7 linked regions of the Homo sapiens genome follow. The protein of the gene in region 1 purifies or fractionates together with the protein of each later gene. This does not show direct contact. Each region holds a gene or a part of one and is shown in the gene's direction. Other genes may lie near its edges. The genes, in order: KAZALD1, XPNPEP3, ZNF146, ZNF627, ZNF865, ZNF709 and ZNF101.

Region 1 (3,951 bases):
CCGGGAGAGAGTGTCTGCCCTTGCCCACCTCCTCAGAACCCCTCTGGCCAGGGATGGCGCCTACGTGGCTCGGGAGCCCCTGAATGAATGGGCTTGGCCCAACTTAGGGGCGCATTCCGACGGGAGAGTCCTGGCTGTATTCCGAGGCTCCAGTGCGCATGCGGAGTCGATCCCGCGCAGGCGGGCGGGGACGGCAGCCGGGTCTTGTGGGCGGAGCCTGACTAAGTGCCGCCCCCTTGCCGGCTGCAGATTGCTATTTCTGCCCCCCACCCTCGCCCATCCCCCCGCGAGCTGGACTGCGCCAAGGCTTCTGTGAGCCGCTTGGGGCCGGCCGGGGCGGGGCCTGCCCGACCCGGGTTTGGCTGGCGGGCCCCTAGGAATGCTCTCCTCCCCGCCCCCGGCCCAAAGTGCCACGGTGGCGGTGGTGGCGGCCGCGAGGCCGAGTGTCTCCGGCCCTGCCAGCCTCGCAACCGTAACCTGTAATCCCGACCCGAGGGACGCCCGCCGGGGAGGCGCCAGCCCGCCTCTCCCTGCGGCCGCTGGTCGGCTCCGACCTCGAATCACCCGGCTCACCCGCGGGTCGCAGCACCTGCCGGATGTGGGGAGGAAGAAGGAGGCCAGATGAGGGAAGGCGGATGTAGGCGCCCAGTCTGTCCGCGCCTTGGTGGGGCAGCTGGGTGGGCAAGCCTGCGGTCGCTCCCGGGAACCAGCCCTGGGCTGCGGGGAGACGAAGGTGGTTGGTCCTGCCCTCCAGGAGCGCCCCGACATCGACGTAAAATGACTTGGCACCAGAGCTCCTGCCGCCTCCCCCTTATGCAGCTGCCCTCGCCGACGCCAGGGACTGTAAAATCAGATGGGACAGGGCCTAGCCGTTCAGCCAACACTTTGAGCTTCCCAGCCAAACTCCTACCCCCACTCCCCGCCTCCGGTCCTCACCCCCTTCCTCTCTCCCAGCCTCGGTGTCTGGTTACGGCTCCTCTGCTCGCATTGTGACTTTGGGCCAGGCTGGGGGAAATGACCCGGGAGGGTCCCATGCGGCTACATAAAATTGGCAGCCTTAGAACTAGTGGGAAGGCGGGTGCGCGAAGTCGAGGGGCGGAGAGAGGGGGCCGGAGGAGCTGCTTTCTGAATCCAAGTTCGTGGGCTCTCTCAGAAGTCCTCAGGACGGAGCAGAGGTGGCCGGCGGGCCCGGCTGACTGCGCCTCTGCTTTCTTTCCATAACCTTTTCTTTCGGACTCGAATCACGGCTGCTGCGAAGGGTCTAGTTCCGGACACTAGGTGAGCACTCTGTGCCCCAGGCCATAAGCGAGGCGGCATCAGCCCCCCCAGTTCTCACCCCCCATTAGCAGCTTCTTACTTCTGGAGCCACCCATTCTCTTTGGGCAAGGATGCTCAGGGGCCAGGGATCGGAGTCGGGTGGTGCACGGAAGTGGTGCTGGTGGTGGGTGTGCGTGCGCCTGAGCCTTATCACCCTTTCCTCACCTCTCTTCACTCCCAGCCCTCCCAAGAACAGCCCAACTGATTGCTAACTGCCATAACTGGATAATCCCTAGAGGGTCACTAGGCCTGTGTGTTGGGGGAGGCTACTTGGTAGCAGGGGAGGGGGCGATGCTAGTGTCATGCTTTGGTACAAGAAGCAGTGAGGTTGGTCTTTCGGCACAGGCCCTGTTTCTGACCTCCTGACCTGGCTTCCCTTCCTGGCAGGGTGCCCGAACGCGCTGATGCCCCGAGTGCTCGCAGGGCTTCCCGCTAACCATGCTGCCGCCGCCGCGGCCCGCAGCTGCCTTGGCGCTGCCTGTGCTCCTGCTACTGCTGGTGGTGCTGACGCCGCCCCCGACCGGCGCAAGGCCATCCCCAGGCCCAGATTACCTGCGGCGCGGCTGGATGCGGCTGCTAGCGGAGGGCGAGGGCTGCGCTCCCTGCCGGCCAGAAGAGTGCGCCGCGCCGCGGGGCTGCCTGGCGGGCAGGGTGCGCGACGCGTGCGGCTGCTGCTGGGAATGCGCCAACCTCGAGGGCCAGCTCTGCGACCTGGACCCCAGTGCTCACTTCTACGGGCACTGCGGCGAGCAGCTTGAGTGCCGGCTGGACACAGGCGGCGACCTGAGCCGCGGAGAGGTGCCGGAACCTCTGTGTGCCTGTCGTTCGCAGAGTCCGCTCTGCGGGTCCGACGGTCACACCTACTCCCAGATCTGCCGCCTGCAGGAGGCGGCCCGCGCTCGGCCCGATGCCAACCTCACTGTGGCACACCCGGGGCCCTGCGAATCGGGTACGCATGGCCCGGGGCCCCCACCCCAGCACTTAGGTTTCCTAGAGGCACTGCTCCCCGACCCCTGACAGCATTGGTCTCTGGCCAGCAGAGCAAAAAAGATAAGGCTATAGAGGCCTCGAGTCCAGTATAAAACCCTGCTCTCGCTACTGGTTCATAAAAGCTGCCACCTTAAGGTGGGGGTGGGGGGTGGAGTGGAGTGGGAGTCCCGGGCTTCGTCAGCAAGCTGCATTCGCTGAACCACGTGAAAGCTCCAGAGCTGGCTGGCAGGGAGAGACAGGTCCTCTGAGGGCGCAGGCACATAACCTATGGTTTGCTCAGAGACCCCCCCGACTTTTCCCAGACCAGTGGAGTCCAGGCAGCAAGACGGGTTCCTGTGAGATGCAATCACGTTTCATTCTTAGAGCAGTTTGTTCACCCAGTCTCCCCACCTCTCTGCTTTCTCCTGCTTTTAGGGATTAGTGAAGGGGAGCGGGAAGTTCTTTCTCTATCCCTGGGGACTGGGGTCCATTCAGGCCTCTAGCTTTCCTTGGTAGCTTTAGTAACTTTCACTTCCTGAGCCCGGGCTCTGCGTCTGGCTCGGCTGGGGCAGCCAGAAAACAAACACCCCGTGGGGGTCCCAGCAATTTCCTCCACTCCTGCAGGCTTCCTGCCTGTCGCACAAGTCCAGCTTCAGGTTCTCTGCCTTGCCGCAGGACTCCCCCAGGGGGTACTGAGGAGGGAACGGCTGCTTTTCCTCCTTTGGGAACTGGGCCTGTTTAGAAAAGGGGAAGGGGGATCTGGAAGGTTTTGATTACAGGCACGCAGGAAAGGCTGGGGAGGGTGAAATGAGGACAGGGGAGCAGTTAGGGACAGAGTGGCTGCCAAGCTACAATGTAGATGTGTGTGCTTGTTTGTGCATTGGGTCTGCATGAGGTTCTATGTGCACATGTGCATGTATACCTATCTCCACGTCTGCGTGGTACCCTTGTGTGTACCAGCATCCATATCTGTGTGTACCTGTGTGTGTCACGGTGTGTTTATGGATGTGTATTTACCTCAGCATATATTGTGTTCTGCCACAAGCATGTCCACAAAAATTTGTGTATCATGTCTTTGCCAGACTGGATGCCTTTGCTGGGCCATGCTATTCTCAGACCTCCCGCCTTCACCCCCAGGGCCCCAGATCGTGTCACATCCATATGACACTTGGAATGTGACAGGGCAGGATGTGATCTTTGGCTGTGAAGTGTTTGCCTACCCCATGGCCTCCATCGAGTGGAGGAAGGATGGCTTGGACATCCAGCTGCCAGGGGATGACCCCCACATCTCTGTGCAGGTAGACTGGTGGGAGAGGCTTCCCTCAGGCAGCCCAGGGCCCTCCAGAAGGACCCTGCTGATTCCTTGCCTGGCTCCAGTTTAGGGGTGGACCCCAGAGGTTTGAGGTGACTGGCTGGCTGCAGATCCAGGCTGTGCGTCCCAGTGATGAGGGCACTTACCGCTGCCTTGGCCGCAATGCCCTGGGTCAAGTGGAGGCCCCTGCTAGCTTGACAGTGCTCACACCTGGTAAGGGGATTCCTGAGTTCTGGGGGTTGGGGGGATGGTGCTGGATTCCAGTTGTGAATGTGTAAGAAACAGACCATGTGTCTGTATACACAAGCATAGCCTTCCGCAGACTGGGCTATGTGGGCACCGACAGCCCCTCT
Region 2 (3,500 bases), on another chromosome or scaffold:
TTATAATTTGCCTACCACTGGAAATAATAACCAATAATGTCGAAAATTATTTGAGTACCCTCTGAGTCACACTGTAGCAAGTGCTCATTTAACTGACACAGCACTCTAGCAAAATAAATATTTTATGCCCATAAGAAAACAGACGTTCTGAGAGAGAAAGTAATTTGTCTAAGGCTACATAGCTTGTTAGTGAAAAATCTGATTTTTAAACTTGAGTCTAATTTCAAGTTCTCATTCCACTCTACTGCATTTCTCGGACTAGGACTTAAAGAGTTTAGGTTCTAGGCATTCCACAAACAGATACTGAGAACCTGCTGTTACCGGAAAGGGGTCCCAATCCAGACCCCAAGAGATGGTTCTTGGATCTCGTGCAAGAAAGAATTTCAGTGGAATCCACAGAGTAAAGTAAAAGCAAGTTTATTAAGAAAGTAAAGGAATAAAGAATGGCTACTCCATAGGCAGAGCAGCCCCAAGGGCTGCTGGTTGCCCATTTTTATGGTTATTTCTTGATTATATCCTAAACAGGAAGTGGATTATTCATGCTTCCCCATTTCAGACCATATAGGGTAACTTCCTGACGTTGCCATGGCATCTGTAAACTCTTGGGGTGCTGGTGGGAGTGTAGCAGTGAGGACAATCAGAGGTTACTGTCATTGCCATCTTAGTTTTAGTGGGGTTTGGCCAGCTCCTTTTTTTAAGAACATCACAGGTAAAGCTCACAGGAAGGTGACAGTCTAGGAGAAGATGTTCGCAGTGTCTAAATTTGACAGGGACTTATTTTATTTTCATTATTATTGTTACTATTATTATTATTTGAGGTGGAGTTTCGCTCTTATTGCCCAGGCTGGAGTGCAATGGTGGGGTCTTGGCTCACTGCAACATCTACCTCCCGGGTTCAAGCCATTCTCCTGCCTCAGCCCGCTGAGTAGCTGGGATTACAGGCATGCACCACCACGCCCGGCTAATTTTGTATTTTTAGTAGAGAGGGGGTTTCTCCATGTTGGTCAGGCTGATCTCGAACTCCCAACCTCAGGTGATCTGCCCGCCTCAGCCTCCCAAAGCGCTGGGATTACAGGCATGAGCCACCGCACCCAGCTGGTCAGCTTCTTTACTATAACCTACCTGTTTTATTAGCAGGGTTTTTGTGTCCTGCATTTTGTGCTGACTTCCTATTTCATTCTGTGATTAAGACTGCCTTAACTTACTGGGAATGTAGCCCAGTAGGTCTTAGCCTTATTTTACCAAACCCCTACTGAAGATGGAGTTGCTCTGGTTCAAACGCCTCTGACACTATGATACAGAGAAAAGGTAGAAAATAGGAAATTCTGCTCTTAAGAAATTCATATAGTTTGAAAAAACTAATTTCAGTGGAGTGTAAAGTTATAATACGAGCACTTGTTTCTGCAGTTATACCCTTCTTTGTTGATCCTTTGCCTCCCAGCCATCCGCTGTGCCATTTTCTCTGCCTCTTCACAACAAAACTTATCCAGAGTATTGTCTCAGTGTCTTTGCTTTCTTACATCCTATTCCCTCCTTGGCATACTCCAATCTGTCTTCTGTCTTCTTTACTCTGCTAAAATCGCCAGGGTCTCCAGTGATTGATGTTACCATATCCAGTGGTTGTCCTTTTGGCTTCCTTGTATTTTGAAGCACTTGCCACACTGTGAGCCCTCCTCACTTTTTTTTTTTTTTTTTTTTGAGATGGAGTTTCACTCTCGTTGCCCAGGCTAGAGTACAGTGGTGTGATCTCGGCTCACTGCAACCTCTACTTCCCAGGTTCAAGCCATTCTCCTGCTTCAGCCTCCCGAGTAGCTGGGATTACAGGCATGTGCCACCATGCCTGGCTAATTTTGTATTTTTAGTAGAGACAGGGTTTCTCCATGTTGGTCAGGCTGGTCTCGAACTCCCGACCTCAGGTGATCCACTTGCCTCGGCCTCCCAAAGTGCTGGGATTACAGGTGTGAGCCACTGCGCCTGGCATAGTCCTCCCCACTTCTTAAAACACTTGTTTTTTAACTTCCTAAATACCACACTCTTTTTTTGTGGGGGGCGGGGGGGCAGCGGGTAGAGACAGGGTTTAGCCATGTTGGCCAGGCTGGTCCCGAACTCCTGGCCTCAAGTGATCTGTCTGCCTGCCTCGGCCTCCCAAAGTGCTGGGATTACAAGCATGAGCCACCATGCCCAGCACTAAATACTGTACTCTTCTAGTTTTCCTTCTTTCTCCTGTGCTCTTTCTCACACTAAAATATTACAGTGCCAGGCTTTGTTCAGTCTCCCTGGGTAATACCCATTCCCAGGGCTTTAGATGCCATCTGTGTGCTTATAACACCCTAATTTATATATCTAGCCTAGCACTTTTCTCCCTGAAATTAAGATTGCTCTTTGACCTCTCCATTAAATTTATTTCCAATAAATATCTCAGGCTTTCCTGTTGCATGTAGTGGTACAACCATTTATTCACTTGTTCAAGTCAAAAATCAAGAATTATTCTTAATTCCTCTTTTTTCTTTATTTCTTATGTCCAATTAGAAGCCAGACTCATTGACTTTTAACTTCAAAATACATTTCAAATCAAGTCACTGGGAAAATAAAGTCAAATAACAAGTGATCTCTGCTTCCAAAGATTGTTCATAGTAGACTGGCAAACTAATTAGCAATTATGTGAAGTGTAGTAGGTATTAAAATAGAAATCATAGGAGCGTTGGGGAAGACATCTGAAACAAGCAGAACAGAGGCAGTAGGTGTGAGAAGAGTAAGAGAAGTCTCTTGCGTAAGTGATGTTTGAGCTGGTATTTTTTAGAATTTCTGTAATCGTATAAGCAGGCAGTGTCCACTTTAGACTAAGAGAACTATATTTTTTAATGCAAATGCTATTATGATGCAGAATGATTTAGCCGGGGTTCTTCAAGTAGCTTAGTGTGGCTGCAATAATGTTTTTTGAGGATTAGGTCAGATAAGGGAGCAGGATCCAAATCATGAAGTTTCCTAAGCAAAAGAGTTTGAAGCTTATGAACTGGATATTTTTGAAATAGGACTTAACACACCAGCTTTGCTACTAATTATATGACTTCGGGCAAAAGATGTTTAATGTAAGTAAAAAGCTATTGAGACCTTTTTTAAAAATTTACTGGGAATAAACATCTTAATTTATGTCTCCTGTTAAAGTGTTACTTGTTTGCTTTGAATTTAATAAAGTTAAGCTCCCTCTGCTTGAGAGTGGTCCAAAATATGCTAGGATTATTTCATATGAGCATTGAAAAAGGAATCAGTTAACTTTTTATATTCTGAAATTTTACTGCCTAATGAGATTACAGAAGACACTATGTGTGCATGAGTACGTGTGCACGAGCGTGCATGTGGAGAAGGTGCAGGAGGAGAGAAAGAGAAATCACCAATGCAACAGCAGCCTACTCCACCAGTGGGTTAGTGCTGCTGGAGGGAGATGAAAAGATTAGGAAGGTAAGATAGCTTTGAAGGCTTTGTATTCTAAATTAAGGAGT
Region 3 (3,500 bases), on another chromosome or scaffold:
GCACTTTATGAATTTAACTCCTTTGTGCTATGGTTCTTTGTACTCCATTTTAGAAGAAGCCTGAGAAGATGATGCACAGATAGAGAGGCACCAGGACTTGAGAGGCACCAGGACTTGGGAGGCATGTTGATCCATCTCCAGGAAAGACTGAGAAAAAGAGCGTTGAATATAAGAAAAAATACTTCCTCTGTTCTCAGATCGTATTTGTTTTAAGGCCACACCTTTTTGAAGTTTTCAGTTTGAAACACAACCTGGACTGAAATCATGAGGGAGGTTGTGTAGGAAAGAATCATCAAGGGACTTAGTTGGGAGCTTCTCTACCACAGCTTACTCCTTATGGTATTAACCCCCTTTAAGTGTAAATGTCTTTGGTTTAAAACGTTTGTACCTCATCTGTTACCAGAGTGTTCATACTGGAGAGAAACCCTATGAATTTACTGAATGTGGGGGAACTGTTACTCATATGTTGCATTTCGTCGAACGTGCAAGTCATGCTGAAGAGAAACCCTGTGCTTCTAAGGAGTATTGACAAGCCCTTAGCTAGATGACAATCTCATTGAGAAGCAGAAAATTCATGCTGGAGAGAAACTAGTGAAGGTAGCAATACTTCATTGAATATTAGAAAATTTTTCTAGAGAGAAAGCATTGAATATACTGAGTATGATAACATTTCCTCTCAAACCTTATCCCTTACTCTGCATTTGGGAGATCATACACAGAGAAGCCTTATAAATGTAAGAGATGTGGAAATATCTTCAGCCAAAAGTAAATCCTCACTCATCAAGAAATTTTTACTGGAGAGAAACCTTGTGAATGTGGGAAAGCTTCCATTCAGATGTCACACCTCAGCCAGCAGAGAATTTACAGTGGGGAAAACCCCTTTGCCTGTAAGGTATGTGGAAAAGTCTTCAGCCACAAATCAAACCTCACTGAGCATGAGCATTTTCACACGAGAGAGAAACCTTTTGAATGTAACGAGTGTGGAAAAGCCTTTAGCCAAAAGCAGTATGTCATTAAACATCAGAACACCCATACTGGCGAGAAGCTTTTCGAATGTAATGAATGTGGAAAATCATTTAGCCAGAAGGAAAACCTCCTTACGCACCAGAAAATTCACACTGGAGAAAAACCTTTTGAGTGTAAAGATTGCGGGAAAGCTTTCATTCAGAAGTCAAACCTCATCAGACACCAGAGAACTCACACAGGAGAGAAGCCCTTTGTATGTAAGGAGTGTGGAAAAACCTTCAGTGGCAAATCCAACCTTACTGAGCATGAGAAAATCCATATTGGAGAGAAGCCTTTTAAATGTAGTGAATGTGGAACAGCCTTTGGCCAGAAGAAGTACCTCATAAAACATCAGAACATTCACACTGGAGAGAAACCCTATGAATGTAACGAATGTGGAAAAGCCTTCTCTCAGCGAACATCACTTATTGTACATGTGAGGATTCATTCAGGTGATAAACCTTACGAATGCAATGTTTGTGGAAAAGCCTTCTCTCAGAGCTCATCTCTCACTGTGCATGTGAGAAGCCATACAGGGGAGAAGCCCTATGGTTGTAATGAATGTGGGAAAGCTTTCTCTCAGTTCTCAACCCTTGCTCTGCATTTGAGAATACACACAGGTAAGAAGCCTTATCAGTGCAGTGAATGTGGGAAAGCTTTCAGCCAGAAGTCACACCACATTAGACACCAGAAAATTCATACTCACTAAAAACCCCATGAAAGCCTTGAAAGTGGGAAAGCTTTCATTAGAAATTTGCACCTCATCATGCCCCAGAAATAATCCTTCTGAAGCAAAGCACCACGAATGAGGTTAACTTTAACAAGTACTAAAAACTTAAGGGACACCAGAAAATTTGTACTGAAGAGAAAGACATGCATATGATTAAAACCCTGTGTCCAACAGAGAAACCTGCAGCAGAGATAATGGTGAAAGTTTAGGCACATTTTCACTAAAAGTGGGAACAGAAAATGGAGGCCTGTTTTTTATTGCTACCACCATAGATCTGGAGATCTTCGCCAGTAACAAGAAAAATTAAGTTGTAAATATTGGAAAGGAACAGACAAAAATAGATGACATGGTCATCTACAACTAATATTAAGACTCCTGTGGTATTGATTGAGCAGAGCAGAAGAGATTTCAAAAAAAGACCTATGCATTTATTAGAATTTGGAATATGATACAAGTGGCATCAGGAAATGAGGAAATAATGGAACTATTTTTTTTAAGTGGAGGTAGTTTGTTCTCCAAGGGGGAAAAATAGACCATGAACTATACACAAAAGTGAATCCAGAGATTAAAAACAGAAATATGGAAAAGCTATGTACTAAAATGCATATGACCTTGGGAATAGGGAAACATTCCTTGGAACAATTTGAGAAATACTTAGCGGTTCTACTTATGAGTATGAATGCTCAGGAAATACGCACTAGGATATTTACTGTGGCTTGATTTGTAGTAGCCAAAAATTAGAAACAACTGAGAAAGCCCATCACGAACAATATGGGAAATTCTTATGTAATACTATATATCTGTAAAATGCAACAAATGAAATCCACATGTATTAACAGAAAGATCCCAGAATTGTTGAGGGGGGATCAAGTTGCAGAATGATACAGATAGTACAATGACTTTTTTGTAAATTTGAATTAAAAGTTTCCTCATAAAACTCAGTACTATCTATTGGTAATGGATGCATATATGTATGTACATGTTTTTGAAACGGATTGGAAGGATACAGACCAAACTCTTGATAGTGGTCACCTGTGAAGAGTGGAGAAGGGAAAATAATGAGTGTGGGAGGTGGGATGGGTATTGGTTAAAGGGGACTTCAGCTTTTTATATAAACATCCACTTCTCTTTCAAAAGACTTCAAGTAAATATAAGAAGATACTGATTGATTCTGGATTGTGGTATAGGGATATCTTGTCTTATTTTTTGTACTTTTCTGTATTTTTAAAATTTCTCAAAATAGGAATGGGAGTGAGGATGGGAATGCTGTATCTGTGGAAGTCATGTTATACTGGATTCATTTCCAATTAAATACTAAACATTTTATAGAAAATATTTCTAAAATTTTATCACGGATGAATGGATGGACTTGCTCTCTATGTAATATGAAATTAATCTATTTTATTAAAATTTAAAAGGACAGCACAATCCAAATCTGTTTTAATTATTTTAACATGGCATACACACTATATCGGGGTCCCCAGCTCCCCCCAGCTGCATGGCAGGAGGTGAGTGGCGGGTGAGCGAGCATTGCCACCTGAGCTCCACCTCCTGCCAGATCAGCGGTGGCATTAGTTCTCATAGGAGCGCGAACCCTATTGGGAACTGTGCATGTGAGGAATCCAGGTTGTGCGCTTCTTATGAGAATGTAACGCCTGATGATCTGAGGTGGAACAGTTTCATCCTGAAAACATCCCATCCCCATTCTTCTACCCCCACAAACCGTCCGTGGAAAAATTGTCTTCCATGAAACAGGTCCCTGGTA
Region 4 (3,500 bases), on another chromosome or scaffold:
TTTTTTGGTAGATGGGGGTCTCACTATGTTGTCCAGGCTGATCTCTAACTCCTGGCTCAAGTGATTCTCCCATCCTGGCCTCCCAAAGTACGTAAATATGATATCATATATATCATATAATTGATGAACCAATATATCATATATGATGATGATCAGAATTGGTGAGCCAATATGTTACTAACTAAAGTTTACACTTCATCAAAATTGGTAATTTTTGTTCTTCAAAGGACACCAAGAACTTGAAAAGATAATTCACCAAGTGGAAGAACGACTTGCAAATCCTGTGTCTGGTGGGGCATCTTATCCAGAAGCAGCCTGAGTCTCAGTCCCCTCCATCACACTCCATCAGGGTGGGGGCTGAATTGGCAGCCAGGACTCCCAGGTATCCTGTCCCATCACTGTAGGAGGCAGTCTACCTCCTGGACCTCTCTCTGGGCAGTTGTGCACCTGCAATCCTGGATCTCACCCAGATCATGGGGTGACAACAGGGAGTGGCCATCCAGAGAGAAATCTGAGCCTGGTGTTTTGGGTTTGTGGGTGGGAGGTACTCTCAGGACACCCTCCCCCTCCATGGATTCAGACTTGGGTGGGCCCAGCAGAATGGCATGTGTGGTTCCCAGCTCCTTCATCCCCAGTGGGAGGGAGCCTGTCATCCCCTATGCATTTCAGATAAATGAACCAGGGTCTCAAGTTTACAGCCTTGTTCCCTGTTAAAGAGAGATTGCACTGGAAACTTGTTAAGAATGTCAAGGAAAAGTTTATTAAGCACAATTGCAGTGAGTCATGACAGCTGTAATAGGGGAGGGAGATTGAATTCAGCCTTGAATGCAGCAGGAATATTATTGGATTTATAGCCAATGTACAAGGTGAGGGAGAGAATGGAACTTGGTTGGGTCTCATAGGTGGGAGAAAAAGAACTTGATTGGATATTAAGGTAGGAGGAGTCTCTATAAACTACCTTAGATGGATTCTTGCTGAAACTGACTTCTGCAGGCCAGTGCCAAGCCCTAGTCAAAAAGAGGGCTCTGAGGAGCTTGACTCAAGTTTGGTGAAGGAAGGAGTACTTGAGACCTCTTCAGCCTAGTTTTTCTTTCTTTCTTTTTTTTTTTTTTTTTTTTTGAGATGGAGTCTTGCTCTGTCACCCAGGCTGGAGTGCAGTGGTGCGATCATGGCTCACTGCAACCTCTGCCTCCCAGGTTCAAGCAATTCTCTGCCTCAGCCTCCCAAGTAGCTGGGGTTACAGGTGCCCACCACCAGGCCTGACTAATTTTTTTTTGTATTTTTAGTAGAGACAAGGTTTCACCATCTTGGCCAGGGTGGTCTTGAACTCCTGACCTCATGAGCCACCGTGCCCAGCCTCTTCAGCCTAGTTTTTCCCAGGGCTCTGTATTAGTCTGTTTTCATGCTGCTAATAAAGACATACCCAAGACTGGGTAATTTATAAAGGAAAGAGATTTCATTGACAGGTCAGTATGGCTGGGGAGGCCTCAGGAAACTTACAAGTATGGTGGAAGGGAAGCAAACATGTCCTTCTTCACATGGCAGCAGCAAGGAGAAGTGCAGACTAAAGGTGGGGGAAAGGTGGGGGAAGCCCATTATAAAACCAGATCTCATGAGAACTCACTATTATGAGAACAACATGGAGGTAACCACCCCAATGATTAAATTATCTCCCACTTGCTCTCTCCCATGACATTCAGGGATTATGGGAACTACAAGAGGAGATTTGGGTGGGGACACAGCCAAACCATATCATTCCACCCCCAGCCCCTCCCAAATCTCATATCCTCACATTTTAAAACAATCATGCCCTCCCAACAGTCCCCCAAAGTCTTAAATCATTCCAGCATTAACTCAAAAGTACAAGTCCAAACTCATCTGAGACAAGGCAAGTCCCTTCTGCCTATGAGCCTGTAAAATCAAAAACAAGTTAGCTACTTCCTAGATACAGTCATTGGGTAAATATACCCATTCCAAATGGGAGAAATTGGCCAAAACAAAGGGGCTAGAGGCCCTATGCAAGTCCCAAATCCAGTAGGGCAGTAATTAAATCTTAAAGCTTTGACATAATCTCCTTGGCCAGGCGCGGTGGCTCACACCTGTAATCCCAGCACTTTGGGAGGCCGAGGCAAGCGGATCATGAGGTCAGGAGATCAAGACCATCCTGGCTAACATGGTGAAACCCTGTCTGTATTAAAAATACAAAAAATTAGGCATGGTGGCACGCGCCTGTAATCCCAGCTACTCGGGAGGCTGAGGCAGGAGAATTGCTTGATCCCAGAAGGCGGAGGTTCCAGTGAGCCGAGATCATGCCACTGCACTCCAGTCTGGGTGATAGAGCCAGACTCTGTCTCAAAAAAAAAAAAGAAAGAAAAAAAGAATCTCCTTTGACTCCACGTCTCACATCCAGGTCATGCTGATGCAAGAGGTGGGCTCCCTCAACCTTGGGCACCTCTGCCCCTGTGGCTTTGCAAGGTACAGCCCCCACTCCTGGCTGCTTTCACAGCTGGCACTGAGTGTCTGTGGCTTTTCCAGGTGCGTGGTGCAAACTGTCAGTGGATTGACCATTCTGGGGTTCTTGAGGACGGATGGTGGCCCTCTCCTCACAGCTCTACTAGGCAGTGCCACAGTGGGGACTCTCTGTGGGGGCTCCAGTTCCCACATTTCTCTTCTGCGCTGCCCTAGCAGAGGTTCTCCATGAGGGCTCCGCCCCTGTAGCACACCTCTGCCTGGACACCCAGGCGTTTTTGTACATCTTCTGAAATCTCGGCAGAGGTTCCCAAACCTCAATTCTTGTCTTCTGTGCACCCACAGGACCAACACCACATGGCAGCTGCTGTGGCTTGGGGCTTGCACCCTCCGAAGCCATGACCCGAATTGTACCTTGCCTCCTTTTAGCAATGGCTGGAGTGGCTGGGCACAGGGAACCAAGTCCCTAGGGTGCATACAGCAAGGGGCCCTGGACCAGGCCCAGGAAACCAACCATTTTTTCCTTTTAGGATTCTAGGCCTGTGATGGGAGGGGCTGCCATGAAGGTCTGTGATGTGTCCTGGAGACATTTTCTCCATTGTCTTGGTGATTAACATTTGGCTTCTCGTTACTCACAAATTTCTGTAGCTGGTTTGAATTTCTCCCCAGAAAATGGGTTTTTCTTTTCTTTTCTTTTTTTTTGAGACAGAGTTTCACTCTTGTTGCCCAGGCTGGAGTGCAATGGCGCAATCTTGGCTCACTACAACCTCCACCTCCCAGGATCAAGCGATTCTCCTGCCTCAGCCTCCCGAGTAGCTGGGATTACAGGCATGTGCCACCACGGCCAGCTAATTCTATATATTTAGTAGAGAAGGGGTTTCTCTATGTTGCTCAGGCTGCTCTCAAACTCCTGACCTCAGGTTATCCGCCTGCCTCAGCCTCCCAAGGTGCTGGATTACAGGCATGAGCCACCACGCCTGGCTGGGTTTTTTTTTCTGTTCCATTGTCAGGCTGCAATTTTTCCAAACTTT
Region 5 (4,299 bases), on another chromosome or scaffold:
GCCAGCATATTTAGCTAATTTTTTTTTTTTGAGACGGAGTCTTGCTGTCGTCCAGGCTGGAGTGCAGTGGGGCAATCTGGCTCACTGCAACCTCTGCCTCCCGGGTTCAAGCAGTTCTCTCCCTCAGCCTCCCGAGTAGCTGGAATTACAGGCGCCCGCCACCACGCCTGGCTAATTTTTGTAATTTTAGTAGAGACGGGGTTTCACCATCTTGGCCAGGCTGGTCTTGACCTCCTGACCTCGTGATCCACCCGCCTCGGCCTCCCAAAGTGCTGGGATTACAGGCGTGAGCCACCGCGTCCAGCCTAATTTTTGTATTTTTTTTTTTTGTAGAGACGGGGTTTTGCCATATTGCCCAGGCTGGTCTTGAACTCCTGTGCTCAAGCAATCCGCCTGCCTTGGCCTCCCAAAGTGCTGGGATTACAGGCGTGAGCCACCACGCCAGGCCAAGAGAACGGATTTTAAGGTGAGGGGCGGAGCTTATAATAATTCAGCTCTGAGGTGGGCGTGGTTCAGGGCCGAGGGCCGGGGGCCGGGGCTTAAAGGAGAAACTCTGAGGGAACAGGGTATTGGAGGTGGGACTTAGAAGGTGCTGATGGGGGCGCACGACTGCTATGGAGGCGATGGGGAGAGAAGGAAGTACTTAATCTAAGGGAAGTTCCTGGGAGAGTGGAAGCTTAGCAGGAGGGGCTGAATGGGTCTGGGTTTGGCTGTTTGGGATGGGGCTGAGTTGGGAGCCGGGATTATAGCGATTATATGAGCGGGCAGTGTCAAGTGTGGTAAATCCATGGCTCTTGACCAGCATGCAGCAGAATCAGAGTATTTCAAAACACGGATCCCTAGACCCCCAACCCCAGGGCTTCTATTCCGCATGGTCTGAGCAGGCAGCCGGATGCTGCTGGCCTCCCAACTATCCTTGACAACCACCGATTTAAAAGAATGCTTTAGAGGTGGGAGGCACTCAAAAGTCACGAGGTGCAACTTAAATGCTATGGGGTGAAGGGGCGGGGCTTGGATGGAGGGGGCGGGGCCTAGGGAGGGGTGAAGTTCCAGAGAGTGGGAGCTTGGAGAGGGGGAAGAACAGGAGAAACTGCATGAGGGCGAGGGGACGAAGACAGACTTTGAGGCAGTAGGGGGCTTATAATCACGCTGTGAGATGGGCGTGGTTCAGGGCCAGGGGGCGGGGCTTCAGTGTGAGACCCGAGCCGGAGGTGTGGCTTAACCGGACGCCCAGAGCGTGTCGCGGGGTTCCCGTAGAAGAGGCGGGCATTCAAAGCGCAGGCGCACCTGGCTCAGTTCGCCCACCGGAATCGGCCCGGGCTTTCACTGCTCGCGTCCCCGAGTCAGTGCGCAAGCGCATTTCCCCCCTCCTGGTCCCCGCCACCGCCTCCTCTTTCCGATCCTCCACGCCGGCGCCTCGGGAACGGGCGCGACTTCCGCTTCCGGGCGGGCGGGCAGGCGGGCGGTGCGGGGCTGCCGGGGAGGGGGGAGGGGGCGGCACTTCCGGTCGGGCCCTCGGGTCTCCCCGGAGCGGCGGCGCCTCCTCCGCCTCCTCGGCCTCCTCCCGGCGGAGACCCCGGCGCCGGTGAGTGACGGGGTGCGTGGCCCGGGGGCCCGGGTGCAGCGGGGGCGGGGGGCCCCGCCCTGGCCCGCTGTGGTCCCCAGAACGTCCCCCAACCCCTAGCAAGTCAGTGCAGCTCCCGCCGGGCCCTTGCCAAGGGACCCCCAATCACTGCTCCCCGGTAGGATCACTGCAGATAGCTCCCCCATGAACGCCCCCAGCTAGGATGGCTGCCAAAGCGCTTTCATTCGTGGCGATCCCCTAAACGGCTGCCAGGGCCCCCAAATGATACCTCCTCGTAGGATCCCCTCCACATAGCGCTCCCCGTCATTGCTTCCTCCAGGTCAGCCTCCAGATGCCATCAGCATTGCCCCTCCCCATGTAGGGCAGCTGCTCGTGAACCCTCTTATTAGTATCCTCTATATAATTCTCCCCAGAGTGTTTCCTTAGTGCCTTGCAGCAGAACTGTCCCCCGTTATCTCTGTCCATACAGCAACAGCCCCCAATGGCCCTGACCACCTCCCTCCCCAGCAGAACGCCCCTTCGTGGGTGTGAAAATACTTTCTATTCTGGTCAGCACCAAGAATGCCTTTTTCCCTTCTGCAGGTCCTCCAGTGATTCCCCTTAAGAATGCCCCTTTCAAAGCCACCCCCCCATCGCAGCGGCACAGCTCCCTCTAGAGTTCCTTCACACTCACATCCTCTCCCGCCTCAGGTAGAAATATCCGCCTGCTTAGCTCCAGGCTCCCATGACATACTCCCGTACCTCCTCTCACCCCACCCTCATCGCGGTCAGCCCGTCTTCATTACTTCTGCCACAGAACAGTGTCCCGCAGTGAGGCGGTGAAGCCTTCCTTCCCAGAATGTGCCTCATCCTCTTCCTATGGCGTGAACAACTGTTGCCCTGACCTGCAGCTTCTCACCCAGCTCTCAGGCTATCGTCCTGGACTCCCTAGGGAAGACCCTGGACTTCACTAGGGTGTGACTTCTTTTCTCGTAGGCATTCCTTCTGCGTTGAACGCATATTCACTATTCTAGCTGAAGGGTATAATATACAGCCACGAAGGGGGTCGATACACACAGTGTTCTCACTGTGCGGGGTCTCACAGTCTAGTTGATCAGACACGAGTCGACAAAGATACACGGGGTTTTGTGGGTTCTCTGAGAGCCTGATGAACTACTTTAGAGGTGAAAGCTGAATTACAAGTGGCAGCTTAGCCATGCAAAGATCTGGGTGAGCAGGCAGCAAGAACAACAAGTGCAAAGGCCCTGAAGTGGCGGTGAGCACGGTGAGTGGAGGAGCAGCAGGGGAGGCCGGTGAGGGTGGAGTGGAAGATTTGAAGGCAAGAACAAGAGGAAGGAAGCTTTGGTCTCAAAAGGCTTTGGAGGTGAGGGCACTGGGATAAATTATCTAGCCTTTGTCAGCTCTACCGAGCCCAGAATGTTCTTCATTCATTCATACGTTCATTCGTAAACACTGGTTGAACAACTGTTTAATGAGCACCTACTTTACATTGGGGGTACAACAGAGAACAAAATAGACAAGAATCCCTGTCCTCATGGAGTGGATATGCTAGTTGAGGGGGCAGATGATTAAAAGACAAAATACAGGCCAGGCGAGGTGGCTCATGCCTGTAATCCCAGCAGTTGGGAAGGCCAAAGTGGGAGGATCGCTGGAGGCCAGGAGTTCAAGACCAACCTCGGCAACATAGTGAGACCCTGTCTTTACAGGAAAAAAAAAAAAAAAAAAAAAAAGCTGGGTGTGGTTGGTGGGCACCTGTAGTCCCCAGCTATTCAGGAGGCTGAGGTGGGAGGGCTGCTTGAGCCCAGGAGTTCGAGGCTGCAGTGAAAAAAAATAAAAACAAAAACCAAGAGTATATGTGCGTGTTCAGAATATCACGGGATAAAGAGATAGACCTGGGGGGCTGTGGTTCAGGATGGCCTCCCCCAGGATTTTCCTATGTCTTGTCATCTTGTCCCTCCCAAAAGCCACACACCAAAAAGTTATACAAGAGTAAAAATTCCCCTTCTCCTGGACAACTGTGGCCCACTTGGGGGCTGCTCTTAACAGCGCCCTAACCCCAGGAGCGAAGTGATTGGGAGGATGAGCCCTGGATTCCACTAGGGTTCACAGCTTTGAGCAAATCACTCCCTCCTTTCCTAGCCTCATTCATTCACTTCTTCAAACAAAAATGTATCAAGCCAGGAACTGTTGTAGGTCCTGGGGATGGAACAGTGAGCAAGAGATAAAAATCCTTGCCTTCAGGAAGCCGATCATCTGGATGGGGAGACCAACAAAATCAAGGCAAAGAAGTAGATTATGTGAGGTTATAAATGATGCTGAGCAGTAAGGAGAGAAATGAAGCAGGGTTAGGGAGATGAGGATGTGGGCCTGGGTGACAGGTCATTGGTTACTGAGAGGCTCATTGAGAAGACAGTTGACCAAAGATGGGGAGGAGGTGAAGGGGTGAGCGAGATGGTTGCCTGAGAGTCAGAATATTACAGGCAACAGCAACAGCCAGCGCAAAGGCCCTGCAGCAGGAATAGAGTGGGCACATGGGAAGAGCAGCCAGGAGACTGTGGAGGTCATTGTAAGGACTGTGGCTTTTTTTTTTTTTTTTTTTGAAAAGGAGTTTCGCTCTTGTTGCCCAGGCTGGAGTGCAGTGGTGTGATCTTAGCTCGCTGCAACCTCCGCCTCCCGGGTTCAAGTGATTCTCCTGCCTCAGCCTCCCGAGTAGC
Region 6 (3,500 bases), on another chromosome or scaffold:
TGATACTCCTTAAAGTGGTCCTGGGTAGTGTTTCTTGGCCTGGACTTATCTGTGTGTTTTAGAGTGAAGCTGTGACTGCTGCTGACCTGGCATACAAGGTGCTCATGGGAAAGACTACCTGCCAGAGCAGTCATTTTTGAAAAAGAGACAAAAGAGAGGGGGAAAGGCAGCTGTTAGATGGTGGGCCGAGTCCACACTCCTAATAGCACAGGGCTCCCAAGGACCCTTAAGTGTTGCTGCTGTTGCTCTATTGCAGCAAGGATGCTGACCCTCAGGATTATAGGGCACACTCATGTTTCCTCTGCAGCATTGCAAAGGGTTCATTCAAAGCCAGCTTAAGGCCCAGGTGCTTAAACTTTATAAAGCAACCATGAGGGACAGGCCCCTAAGCCTGATAATAGTGATTTGTGGCTCTCTGGAGGGAAAAGAACACCCCTCCCCTGTAGAGAGGATTTTGCTGTCAAAATATATCCAGGGACAAAAACAAAAACAAAACAAACATGTTAGGAAGGAAAGGAACAAAAGAAAAAAATGCTGAAAAAGAGGTCCACAATTTGACCCAATTGGAAATTCCAAATAGACTAAAGGAATTTAGACGGCAAAAAAGATAAAAGAGCCTCTATATCATAGGTTCTGTATTAATTTTAACATCTTATGTAATGTATTAATTAACACACTATAGGATTAGCCAATACAAGGGCTCAAATTATGGTTATACCTGGGAGACCCACTAAAATTTAAGCAAGGTATCCCCTGATAATCTTAAGGGAGTTACTGAATATAAAATAGAAGACAAATAAGTATGTCTCATCTTAGCCATCATAACTGTGCCTAAATTCCCCATGTTCATGGCACCCAGTGTCCTAAAATACGCCAGAATGAACAGGTAAACTCTAAACCAGTGAGTCATAAGTGAAATTTAAATTAAATCTTTGGCACTTACAAACTGGCTTGACAGAATGAGACCCTGTGGAACTTACTCCCCAGTTAAATTAGTTATGATGGCTCAATATAAATTGAACAGGGCCTTGAAGGGTTGAAAAGTATTATGTAAAACTTGTTTAGTGAGGAAGTGATTATTCCCCGTGCTTCTCGTTTTAAAAGTACAGTTTGGCCTTTCTTAAACTTGGAGAGAATGAATGGCAACCCACAATGGATTACCATAACCTTAATGCTGTGGTCCCACCCATTAAGCCCCTATACCAATATCCAACATGGAAATTACTGACACCATCCAGCTGATCTCACAGATTTCACCATCTCACAGGCTAATTATATAACTTTACCTAGTTTCCCAAGGGAACCTCAACAGCCTTGCTGTTGCACAGTCTTTGCAGGCAAAATCTGAACTGCATCCACCTTTCTCTAGAACACAGGTATGATATTACATTAATGACAGCCTTGTCTGAGGACATTGTTTTGGCATTCATTCAGGACACATAAATACTGAAAAAAAAAATAGAGCTTACAAAAAGTCCATTGCCCCATATATAAAATAAGAGACCTTTATGTTTTGGTTAAGTTCCTAAAAACCATTTGGTAAAAGGAGGGCCGCTCCATCCCTGACACTACTATGAAATAGCTATTGTCCCTCTGACTACCCACAGCATCTTCTAGGTTCTTTTGATGTTCTGGAGGCAACATATTCCTTGTTTATAAATTTTACTTAACCACTTTATGCTGTTAATTGCAAATTGGCCCACCTTAAGTGGGTCCCCCTACCGCAAAAGGCTCTAGAGTCTTTTTCATTCTCTTAACACAGAGCTTTCATAGAGAAGGAGCTTTTGCATTTTAATGAAGTCAAACTTACTGATTTATTTTGTATGGATTTTGCTTATATCTAAACATTTGTCACCAAACCCAGGGTCACCTAGATTTTCTTCATTAACTTTTAGTATCCTATAACTTTACTTTTTTTTTTTTTTTTGAGGCAAGTTCTCCCTCTTGCCCAGGCCAGAGTGCAGTAGTGCAATCTTGGCTCACTGCAGCCTCAACCTCCTGGGCTCAAGCACTCCTCCCACTTCAGCCTCCTGAGTAGGTGGGACTACAAGCGTGCACCACCACACCTGGCTAATTTTTGTATTTTTTGTAGAGATGGGGTCCTACTTAGTTGCCCAGGCTGGTCTCAAACTCCTGACTTCAAGCTATCCTCCTGCCATGGCCTCCCAGAGTGCTGGGATTACAGGCATGAGCCACTGCTCCTGGCCTAGATTTTACATTTAGTTCTGTGATCCATTTTGAGCCAGTTTTTGTTTAAGGTGTAACGTCTGTTTCTAGATTTGTGTTTTTTTCATTGTGTTTTGCATGTGGATGTTCAGTTTTTCCAACACTGTTTGTTGAAAAAGGCTATCTTTTTTCATTGAATTGCTGTTGGTCATTTGTTGAAAATCAGATGACTCAGTGAGTCTATACTATACTAATGTGAGTCTGTAAGAAGGCAATTGACTTTTGTATATTAAGATTATATCCTCAACCTCTAGTTTGAGGAGTTTGTTGTGGATTCTTTGAGATTTTCTACTTAGACAATCATGTCACATGCGACAAAGACAGTGATATTTCTTTGTTCCCAATCTATATCTCTTCTCTCCTCTCCTCCCCTCTCCTCTCATTAGTTACACTTTGAGTACAATCTGTTGAGTAGGAGTGGTAAGAGGGGACATCTTTGCCCATTTCCTCATCTTACCAGGAAAGCATCTATTTTCTCACTATTAAATATGATATTAGCTGCAGGTTTCCTATAAATACTGCTTCTCAAAAAGAGGAAAGTCTATCTCCAGTTTCTTATCATAAATGCATGTTGGATTTTGCCCATAGCTTTTTCATTTTTATTTTTCCCACTTACATTTGTGATATTAGTAATTTCTGTTCTCTGTTTTTCAGTTAGCTTAACCATACATTTATCAAATATATTGATCTTTTCAAAGAAACACCTTTGGTTTTGTTTAATTTCTCTTTTTACTATTTCTTCTGTTGTGTGCTTACTTTGGGTTTAATTTGCTCATATTTTCTTGCTTTCCTCATGTAGATGCTTAGATTTTTTTTTTTTTTTTTTTTTTTTTAAGACGGAATCTCACTCTGTTGCCCAGGCTGGAGTACAGTGGTGCGATCTTGGCTCACTGCAACCTCCGCATCCTGGGTTCAAGCGATTCTTCTGCCTCAGCCTCCCAAGTAGCTGGGACTACAGGTGCCCACCACCATGCCCGGCTAATTTTTGTATTTTTAGTAGAAACAGGGTTTTGTCACTTTGGACAGGCTGGTGTCCAACTCCCGACCTCAGGTGATCTGCCTGCCTCAGCCTCCCAAAGTGCTGGGATTACAGGTGTTAGCCACTGTGCCTGGCCAGGATTTACATCTTTTTAATATTCAGTGTCCATTTTACAAGTTATGGTAGCTATAGTCACTTTAAATACTTTCATCTTTTAGCTTTTATACTAGAGTTGAAAGTGATGTTTGTACCACCATTATGTATAAGAATATTCTGGATTTGACTATACTTTTGC
Region 7 (3,500 bases), on another chromosome or scaffold:
ATTCACGAGACATTTTCAGACTTCAAGAAAAATTTCAGTAGGCTTTGTTCTTTTCTAAAAATTGACTTCAACGGCTTGTAACAGCAATTCAAGATGAACTGAGGGCAGGAACACTGGCAAACACCTGTAATTCTAGGTACTTGAGAGGCTGAGGCGGGAGAATCGATTTAGCCCAGGAGTTCAAGTCCAGCCTGGGCAATATAGTGAGACCCCCATCTTAAAAAATGTGTGTGTGTATATATATATATATATAAATTATATGTATGATTATATATATATTTATAAGTTGTATGATTATATATATTTATAAATTTTATGTATGATTATATATATATTTATAAATTTATTTATTTTATTTTTTTACTTTCGAGACAAAGTCTTGCCCTGTTGCCCAGGCTGGAGTGCAATGGTACAATCTTGGCTCACTACAACCTCCGCTAAAGTGATTCTCCTGCCTCAGCCCTCCCCCACGCCCGGTAGCTGAACCCGGTAGCTGAATCCTGAGTAGCTGGGATTACAGGTGCCCTCCACCACACCTAGCTAATTTTTTTTAGCTTTAGTAGAGACAGGGTTTCGCCATGTTGGCCAGGCTGGTCTCGAACTCCTGACCTCATGGTCCTCCTGCGTCGGCCTCCCATAGTGTTGGGATTACAGGCGTGAACCATCACATTCAGCCCTATATGCATTTTAGAACGGGCTTTTTTTTTGGCGGGGGGGGTCTCTGTTGCCCAGGCTGGAGTGCGGTGGCACGATCTCAGCTCATTGCAACCTCTGCCTCCCAGGTTCAAACGATTTTCCTGCCTCAGCCTCCCAAGTACCTGGGATTACAGGCACCTGCCACCACGCCCAGCCAATTTTTTGTATTTTTAGTAGACACGGGGTTTCAACATGTTGGCTAGGCCAGTCTGAAACTCCTGAGCTCAGGCAATCCTCCCACTTCGACCTCCCAAAGTGTTGGGATTATAGGCATGAGCCACTGTGACTGGCTGGTATTTTTATTTCTGAAAAAAGAAAACAAAACAAAAAAAACCAGACATGGGATTTTGATAGGGATTGTATTGAATTTGCAGATCATTTTGGGTAGTAGTACCTTCCAAATAATGTAAAGTCTTTTTTTTTTCTTTGACACAGAGTCTTGCTCTATCACCCAGACTGGAATGCAGTGGCACGGTCTTGACTCACTGCAACCTCCACTTCCTGGTTTCAAGCCATTCTCCTGCCTCAGCCTTCTGAGTAGCTGGGACTACAAGCGCATGCCACCACGCCTGGCTAATTTTTTTTTTTGTATTCTTAGTAGAGATGGGATTTTACCATGTTGGCCAGGCTGGTCTCAAACTCCTGACCTCAGGTGATTTGCCTGCCTTGGCCTCCCAAAGTGGTGGGATTACAGATATGAGCCAATGTGCTGGCTTTTTTTTTTTTTTTTTTTGAATTGGAGTCTTGCTCTGTCGCCGAGGCTGGGGTTCAGTGGCATGATCTCGGCTCACTGCAACCTCCACCTTCTGGGTTCAAGCAGTTCTTCTGTCTCAGTCTCCGGAGTAGCTGGGATTACAGGCACGTGCCACCACACCTGGCTAATTTTTGTATTTTCAGTAGAGACAGGGTTTCATCATGTTAGCCAGGCTGGTCTTGAACTCCTGACCTTGTAATCCACCCACCTCGGCCTCCCAAAGTGCTAGGGTTGCAGGCATGAGCCACCGCACCTGGCCAAATAATGTAAAGTCTTCGAACACATGAACACAAGATATTTTTCAATTTGTCTTTAATTTCATTCAGCAACATTTTGTTGTTTTTAGTGTACAAGTAGTCTTTCGACTTCTTGGTTTTGTAATTTCTAAGCGTTCAATTCTTTTTTTTTTTTTTTTTTTTTTTGAGACAGAGTCTCACTCTGTCGCCCAGTCTGGGCTATTTGGTGTCCTGGGTTTTATATTTGTTGAGGCTTTTTAAATTATTATTATTATTATTATTATTTTGAGATGGAGTCTTGCTTTGTTGCCCAGGATGGAGTGCAGTGGTGCGATCTCAGCTCACTGCAACCTCTGTCTCCTGAGTTCAAGCGATTCTCCTGCCTCAGCCTCCCAAGTAGTTGGGATTACAGGTGCCTGCCACCGCGCCCGACTAATTTTTGTATTTTTAGTAGAGACGGGGTTTCACCATCTTGGCCAGGCTGGTCTTGAACTCCTAACCTTTTGATCCACCTGCCTTTGCCTCCCAAAGTGCTGGGATTACAGATGTGAGTCACCGCGCCTGGCCTATTCAATTCTTTTTGGTGCTATTGTTTGTGGTATTGTTTTCTTAATTTCTTTTTCACATTATTCAGTTTTGGTGCATATAAATGTAGCTGACTTTTTTGGTCTTGAGACAGTCTACCTCTGTTGCCCAGACTGGAGTACAATGGTGTGATCTCAGCTCACTGCAACCTCTGCCTCCTGGGTTCAAGTGATTCTCCTGCCTTAGCCTCTCGAGTAGCTGGGACTACAGGTGTGGGCTACCACACCTGGCTGATTGTGTATTTTTAGTAGAGATGGGGTTTCACCATGCTGGTCAGGCTGGTCTTGAACTTCTCACCTCAAGTGATCTACTCGCCTCGACCTCCCGAAGTGCTGGGATTACAGGCGTGAGCCACCGCACCCAGCCCCATTGTTTTTCATATTTGAACCATCCTTGCATTTTGCGGATAAATCTCTCTTGATGATGTCATATAATCCTTTAAATATGCTGTCAGGTATGATTTGCTAGCATTTATTTGAGGATTTTTTGCATTGATATTCATAAAGGGCATTTGTAGTTTTGTTTTTTGTAGTGTCTGTCTTTGGTGTCAGCATAATTTTGACCTCATAGAGGGAGTTTGGAAATGTCCCCTCTTCAGTTTTGGAAGAGTTTGAGGAGGATTGATAGCAATTCTTTTTTAAATTTTTGGTGGATTTCAGCAGTGAAACTATTTGGTGTCCTGGGTTTTGTATTCGTTGAGGTTTTTAAAATTATTATTATTATTATTTTGAGATGGAGTCTCGTTTTGTCGCCCAGGATGGAGTGCAGTGGCGCCATCTCGGCTCACTGCAACCTCTGCCTCCCAGGTTCATGCCATTGTCCTGCCTCAACCTCCCCAGTAGCTGGGACTACAGGTGCCTGCCTCCATGCCAGCCTACTTTTTTGCGTTTTTAGTAGAGACGGGGTTTCACCGTGTTAGCCAGGATGGTCTCAATTTCCTGACCTTGTGATCCACCCTCCTCTGCCTCCCAAAGTGCTGAGGTTACAGGCATGAGCCACCGCGCCCAGCCAATTTATTATTTTTCTTAATTTATTTTATTTTTTTGAGATGGAGTTTCACTCTTGTTGCCCAGGCTGGAGTGTAATGGCATGATCTCGGCTCACTGCAACCTCCGCCTCCCGGGTTCATGGGATTCTCCTGCCTCTGCCTCCCAAGTAGCTGGGATTACCGGCGTCCACCACCATGCCCAGGTAATTTTTTGTATTTTTAGTAGAGACGGAGTTTCACC

What was found.
Region 2: the proteins of KAZALD1 (region 1) and XPNPEP3 purify together in Homo sapiens (affinity purification with mass spectrometry; one large-scale study listed by BioGRID and IntAct). This does not show direct contact.
Region 3: the proteins of KAZALD1 (region 1) and ZNF146 purify together in Homo sapiens (affinity purification with mass spectrometry; one large-scale study listed by BioGRID and IntAct). This does not show direct contact.
Region 4: the proteins of KAZALD1 (region 1) and ZNF627 purify together in Homo sapiens (affinity purification with mass spectrometry; one large-scale study listed by BioGRID and IntAct). This does not show direct contact.
Region 5: the proteins of KAZALD1 (region 1) and ZNF865 purify together in Homo sapiens (affinity purification with mass spectrometry; one large-scale study listed by BioGRID and IntAct). This does not show direct contact.
Region 6: the proteins of KAZALD1 (region 1) and ZNF709 purify together in Homo sapiens (affinity purification with mass spectrometry; one large-scale study listed by BioGRID and IntAct). This does not show direct contact.
Region 7: the proteins of KAZALD1 (region 1) and ZNF101 purify together in Homo sapiens (affinity purification with mass spectrometry; one large-scale study listed by BioGRID and IntAct). This does not show direct contact.

Annotation. Positions count from the first base shown.
Region 1 is NC_000010.11:101,060,838-101,064,788, forward strand, and holds the start of KAZALD1 (kazal-type serine protease inhibitor domain-containing protein 1 isoform a precursor), read left to right. Parts: upstream 1-1,151; 5' UTR 1,152-1,278; intron 1,279-1,704; 5' UTR 1,705-1,755; coding exon 1,756-2,266; intron 2,267-3,368; coding exon of another isoform or gene 3,369-3,423; coding exon 3,424-3,584; intron 3,585-3,663; coding exon 3,664-3,811; intron 3,812-3,951. UniProt on the Homo sapiens protein: Involved in the proliferation of osteoblasts during bone formation and bone regeneration. Promotes matrix assembly.
Region 2 is NC_000022.11:40,863,648-40,867,147, forward strand, and holds part of XPNPEP3 (xaa-Pro aminopeptidase 3), read left to right. Parts: intron 1-3,500. UniProt on the Homo sapiens protein: Catalyzes the removal of a penultimate prolyl residue from the N-termini of peptides, such as Leu-Pro-Ala. Also shows low activity towards peptides with Ala or Ser at the P1 position.
Region 3 is NC_000019.10:36,235,606-36,239,105, forward strand, and holds the end of ZNF146 (zinc finger protein OZF), read left to right. Parts: exon of another isoform or gene 1-53; 5' UTR 54-835; coding exon 836-1,714; 3' UTR 1,715-3,163; downstream 3,164-3,500.
Region 4 is NC_000019.10:11,603,983-11,607,482, forward strand, and holds part of ZNF627 (zinc finger protein 627), read left to right. Parts: intron 1-227; exon of another isoform or gene 228-382; intron 383-3,500. UniProt on the Homo sapiens protein: May be involved in transcriptional regulation.
Region 5 is NC_000019.10:55,604,148-55,608,446, forward strand, and holds the start of ZNF865 (zinc finger protein 865), read left to right. Parts: upstream 1-1,499; 5' UTR 1,500-1,585; intron 1,586-4,299. UniProt on the Homo sapiens protein: May be involved in transcriptional regulation.
Region 6 is NC_000019.10:12,474,817-12,478,316, reverse strand, and holds part of ZNF709 (zinc finger protein 709), read left to right. Parts: intron 1-3,500.
Region 7 is NC_000019.10:19,671,839-19,675,338, forward strand, and holds part of ZNF101 (zinc finger protein 101), read left to right. Parts: intron 1-3,344; exon of another isoform or gene 3,345-3,360; coding exon of another isoform or gene 3,361-3,462; intron 3,463-3,500. UniProt on the Homo sapiens protein: May be involved in transcriptional regulation.